2 separate regions of the Homo sapiens genome follow, and region 1 is linked to region 2. A link means that fine-mapping ties the variant in region 2 to the expression of a gene that starts in the linked region. Tissue or cell type: whole blood. Region 2 holds a variant in brackets; the other region holds the start of a gene. All regions are shown on one strand. Distances are between the middles of the regions. Region 1 holds the start of CCNG2 (cyclin G2). Region 2 has its middle 31 kb from the start of CCNG2.

What was found.
Region 1: it holds the start of CCNG2, and the variant in region 2 is fine-mapped to the expression of CCNG2 in whole blood (TOPMed, PIP above 0.99).

Annotation. Positions count from the first base shown.
Region 1 is chr4:77,155,545-77,158,452 of GRCh38, reverse strand. CCNG2 (cyclin G2) reads right to left here and starts at 1,246. Exons shown (of 8, transcript NM_004354.3): 1 at 947-1,246. It overlaps LOC101928864 (a long non-coding RNA gene), which reads left to right and starts at 389. Exons shown (of 2, transcript XR_244659.5): 1 at 389-2,908. RefSeq lists silencers at 938-1,047, 1,078-1,147, 1,568-1,687.
Region 2 is chr4:77,125,143-77,128,050 of GRCh38, reverse strand. No RefSeq gene overlaps it. Among named protein-coding and RNA genes, the nearest start is that of CCNG2, 31 kb to the left of the region's middle. The variant T/C (reference allele first, on the strand shown) is at 1,589.

The DNA.
Region 1 (2,908 bases), 30 kb before region 2:
CCTCCAGCAAGGGTCGCCCCAGCACACCCCGACAAGGAGCGGGTGAAGGGACCAGTCACGTCCGCCAGAGCCCCAGGGCAATCCCCACCACGGCCAGGGAGGTGTGGCAGGGGGAGGAGCCGTGGTCAGGTCCGCCGGCCAGCGCTGGGTAAGACCGGCCAGCCCTGGCCTCTTGGCGTTTCACAAACAGGAAACTGTCCGCGGGCGCCGGCGTCCCCTCGGTCTGCCCCACCTGAAGTCGCGCCAGGGAGGGCCTTCTGCCCAGGGGACTGCAGTGTGGCGAGCGACTGCAGCGGGTCCCGGGGATGGGGTGTTGCACAATAGGGGGGAGGGGAGGGAGAGTCTCGCGACTGAACAAAGAAGCGGAGGGAGGAGACTCCCGAGCCCCGCCCGCCCGGGGCGCCCAGCTGCAGAAGCCCCTCTCGGAGAGTCCCGCCCCCAGCTTTTCCCGTCCGCTGCTGCAGCGCCGATTCCGGACTTACCCGAGAGGCGGATACCCCCGTCCCAGGAGCCCTGGGGTGGCGCGGCACACCCGGCTACGGTCCGGGGAGAGAAGTCCAGTCCAGCCCGCCCGCCCCGCGCCCGTAGGGACAACACCCGTCCACCCACTGATGCCGGGGCCCCACAACTCTGCAGAGCCCCGGGGCTGTCAATTCGAGAAGCACCACGCCAGCAAGTCCCCGTGACAACACGAGCGGGGGCGGGGGGCACCGAGGCGGAGACTGCCCTTAACCTAGTCGCAACCTCCTTCCACCCCACGAGCATCTATCTGTCCATCGCGGGCGCCAGCTCCCCCCGGGGCTGGGGCTGAGGGCAGCACCCTGGTCGCTCCAGCGGATGAGGAGCAGGCAGCACCGAGGCACTCGCATGGTACCAACCTCCTCAAAGCCCACAGTCCCCACCACGAACAAAGAAACCCACGGCGGCCCTGGGCGGGTCCACTCACCGTGCCGGAGACGCGCCTCCACCCGCCCGCGGCCTCGCGGTCCGCACGGACTGGGCGCAGCGGGGGCTTCCAAACCTGTCTCGCAGGTCGGGGACCCACCGCCTCAGCGGTGCCCCCGGTCCGGCATCCGACCCTTCCTCCCAGGCACCGCCGCCTCGGCCTCACAGCCCCGGCTCCATCCCGCTCCCCGCGCGCCCACCCTCCGCCGCGGCGCAACGCCGGCCGCGGAAGACCAGCCCACCGCCGCACCCCCGCCGCCTCAGCGGAAACCTCCCCGAGCCCCTTGTTTTTGTTAAGAGTTTCGACGCCCCCAAGGGGGCGGGGCACGTGACTCCCCGCGGAGGGATCCTGCACTTCCTCCACGGACTTTAAAAAAGAGTCCCGCCCCTAAGCTGCCGTCTCGAGCCTCTCTCGCGGCCTCCCTAGCTCTCCTTGGCTTTGCCGAGCCAGTCCTCCCGCCTGGCGCTAGGGCGGAGAGCGGAATCTGGGCGTCGGGCTTATTCCGCGATTGATCTGCGTTGGGGAACGGGGGAAGACAGAGGGGCGGAAGGAGATCGTTTCTGGTCTCATTACGCCTTTTAAAGGTCCCCGATTTGTTTTGTTTTCGCTGTTTTGAAAAGTCCGCCCAAAGTAGCCGGCTCTCTGATTGGATGCGGGTGGGGCGATGGGCATGCTGAGGACCTGATTCACCCTCGAATCTGGATTGGCTAACTTATCAGTCTTGGAGCCCTCTGATTGGCTTTCTCCGTAGCCTGAGCCTCTCTCTGCCTTGGGGCCTTAGCAACTCCAGGGTCTGGATTGCGCATGCCTGGGTGTGCAGCGGAGAAGGTATTCAGTTACCTGCCCTGCGGGGCTGTGCCTTCTCGCCTGGCTGCCTCCGCCTTTCTTGGGGGAATGTCACGCTCGCGGCGCTTCTCCTAACAGCTAACCTTTGTGACAGCCTTTTCAGCCACGGGAGAGTTTTCTACATTCCTTCTTTATTTTGTCTTGGCGTTCCATTTTGCAATAACCCACCAAATTATTATAACATTGTCGGGGCGTTTACTAAAATATTCAATAAATGCTACAAGTTTGGGTATTTGCTTTAAAATTTTACAGTCCAAGAGAAAAAAAAATGGAGAAGAGAGGTGAAATAAGATAGGCAAAAAGTTGAGGGTCGAAGCTGGGTGATGGGTACTCGAGGCTGCATTACAGTATTCTTTCTAGTTCTGTGTCTTGGAATTTTTCCATAATTTAAAAAAATTCAGGAGGGACTGAAGGAGGGGCTTTTCAATAAAAACTTAGCACGCTGATGAGGGTACGTAAACATCTAATAATTACGGCGTACCTCCAGAGGTTGTAGTGCTGTTGTTTTAATGAAGACTCCCAGAGCTTCTTGGTCCTTGGTAACCCATAAATTATCATTTATTGTTCATTATAATTAGCGTTGTTATTATAGGCGACACGTCTCCCAGGACGGGACAAAAAGCAAACAAACCAGGTGCCTTAGGCCAGAGACACTTTCACACGGAATATCAATGGGGCATGTGGTTGACTGCCCTGGAACATTTATTTGTTTACTCTCTCCCTCCTAAATTAGAAAATACCATATTCGTGAGTTCTAATCTACATAATCAGATAGTCCCTGGGAAGAGATTTCTCCTTTCTGTTCTTCTATGTGTTTTCTGTGAATTATTTTGTTACTTGTGAAATATGGGAAGGCACACAACATAGCTTTGGCAGCGCTCTTCTTTGCGGAGCAGCTAAGGAATTTTAAAACTAGGTCCCTTTGCATATTAGCTCGGACTAAACACAGGCATCTGTTTGGAGCACAGAGCAACTGGGGGAAGGCAGCCCAAAAAGCTAACACTTATTTCAGAGAGGTGTGAGCTTGGTGAGGGTTTTGGAAAATAAGATAAAATTAGCACACCAGTTTTAAATGATTTACAGGCTACATAATTTTATCCAATGCTTGTTTTATCT
Region 2 (2,908 bases):
CTGATTCTTCCTGGACACCGAACAAGAACTCGGGTGTCAAAAATGGCAGGTGCAAGAGGCTGTCACCCTGACCCTTCACTGAGCTGTTAACACTTAAACGTTCATGGACTGCAGACTGAGTGAAATAAGCCACTCTAGTTCCTGCCCACAAAGGGGGTCAAGGAGATCAAGGAAACATCCTGTCTCAATAGGAAATATTGGGGTATATAAAAACTTTTACAGATCTGTTATAGATCCTTCCCTAGACAATGTGTCTAGGAGACTTATCTATGACTTACAGCAACACTTCTTGTCTTAGGTTGGGTTTTGTAGAAGCAGAGCCTCAGGAAGGGGTTCTAGTGTCTGTACTTTGAGCGAATGCTCTTTAGAAAAAATCTGTAAGGAAAGGGAAGAGCCAGATAAAAAGGAGCTGAGCAAGGATATGGTTCCAGGAAAAGTCTGGGTTGGGACAGAAGAGTGTTGGAGAGTAGAAACAAGTTGGTCCTTGGTCACCCTTGGGGAGGAGGGGGGTATAATGTCTCAGGAGCCTCCAGTGAGGTGGATCCATTTAGCCAAAGTCAAGCCTCTGGAGAAAGTCACAGCTATAAGCTGTTGGCCCAGGCACATGAGCAGCTGAAGGATGAACGGCCCAGGCTATAAGGGGGATCTGGGCTAGGCAACAATAATGTCTAACACACTGTGGTTTGTTCTTCTTTTTAATACATGATAGTGAGAACTTCATTTTGCATATTCTTTGTATCTCCAGTACTTACCACCGTGCCTAACATATGGTAGGTTTGTAATAAATTGTTTCATTTATTTAAATTACATATTGAGAGCTACTTATCAAATCTACAAAACAATTTCTTAAAAGAGCCATGTAAATTCAGATTTTATTTTGTACTCTTGCTAAATAACATTGTGATGTTTTCCATCATACTCTGTGTTACCACACCAGCTGCTTCTATAATATATTCTTTTCTGCATACCAGTTGTAAAAGAGGAAGGAAGTGTGATCTTGTGGTGAAAAGAGTAGCTTGAGAACCCAGAGATCCTAGCCTTACACTTCTCTTATTGGAGGCCCAAGTGAAGTCACTGGACCTCTCAAAGGTCCTACAGTGTTAGGAAAGGGGAATAATAAATCCTTAAGTGGTCTGTTTTACTTCAGAATAACTACATCTTTCATACTTTTTATGTTAAATGTTTTTGGCCGGGCACGTTGGCTTATGCCTCTAATCCCAGCACTTTGGGAGGCTGAGATGGGGTGATCATCTGAGGTCATGAGTTCAAGACCAGCCTGGCCAACATGGTGAAACCCCGTCTACTAAAAATACAAAATTAGCCAGGCATGGAGTGCCTGTAATCCCAGCTACTTGGGAGGCTGAGGCAGAAGAATTGCTTGAACCAAGGAAGTGGAGGTTGCAGTGAGCTGCGATTACGCCACTGCACTCCAGCCTGGGCGACAGAGCAAGACTCTGTATCAAAAAAAAAAAAAAAAAAAAAAAAAAAAAGAGAGAGAGAGAGAAAAGAAAAGAAAAAACTTCATTGCAGACTTTACTCTCCTGGGCTGACGGGATCCTCCTGCCTCAGCTTCCTGAGTAGCTGGTAA[T/C]ACAGGCATGCACCACAACACCTAGCTAATAAAAAAAAAAATTTTGGCCAGGCACTATGGCTCACAACTGTAATCCCAGCACTTTGGGAGGCCGAGGCCAGTGGATCACCTGAGGTCAGGAGTTCAGGACCAGCCTGACAAACATGATGAAACCCCGTCTCTACTAAAAATACCAAAATTCGCCAGGCGTGGTGGCACATGCCTGTAATCCCAGGCTTGGGAGGCTGACGCAGGAGAATCGTTTGAGCCCAGGAGGCGGAGCACCTTCCTGCTGAAGATAGAAGTCTGGAAGTTCTGATGTTTACAGAACACGTTTCTGGAATCTTAGAATACTGAGATATTGGGCTTGGCACACCCTGCTGTGGATAGGGAAGAGGAGCCTAAGATGAGCTCATTTCTGCATATCTGCCTTAATGCACATGAAAAAATTGGCCTCATTCGGTATAGATATACATAAAGGAAAGGCAGAAAGGAACTGAGGTTGGAGTCTCATAAGGTTACTACCAAAGTAACCGTATTGCTTCAGTGAGAGAGCACAGAGCCTTCTGAATGCCTCTTTAACACTGTGGATTTCATCAAACTTTCTCCTAGACTTAGAGAAACTGTGTGGCAACCACTTTCTCTCTGTCTATAATCTTCAGGGAACCATGCATGTCCACAGAGTGGGGAGCTGGATTATGTCCAAGGAGCCCTATTTTTTGGAGGGAGAGGGATAGGTTGCTCAAAATATTACAGTATACTGAAGGTATGAAATCAGAAAATTGGGGAATAGAGACCAATGAGAAAAGCACAAAGATCTTTTTGCATAGGATATATAAGCCCAAACACTCGTAATGAAATTAATAGCCTAACAAAAAACATTTGCTCATCAATTACATATAAATTAAGCTATGAATCAATAAATGCTTTCATAACCATGAATTATACCAGGCATTTACCTCATGAATAATCATCTGGCTCCATCAGAGCTGACAAAGTTTGGACTTGGCAGAAAAAATAAAACAATTTAGAAAGAGAGTTTCTGAAGTTGACTCTGCATGTGTGTTTGTATTTGCACTCTGAGTGTAAATAACTGCATATGTGATGTGGGAGGAAAAGCTGGCATGGGGGAGGTGGAGATAAATAGGTATGAGATACTCTGGAAGCAAATAAACAGAATATTCACAGACCTCTAAAGATAAATCTTCCCAGCTGGGCACGGTGGCTCACGCCTGTAATCCCAGCACTTTGGGAGGCCAAGGGGAGCGGATCACAAGGTCAGGCGTTCAAGACCAGCCTGGCCAACATAGTGAAACCCTGTTTTTACTAAAAATATAAAAA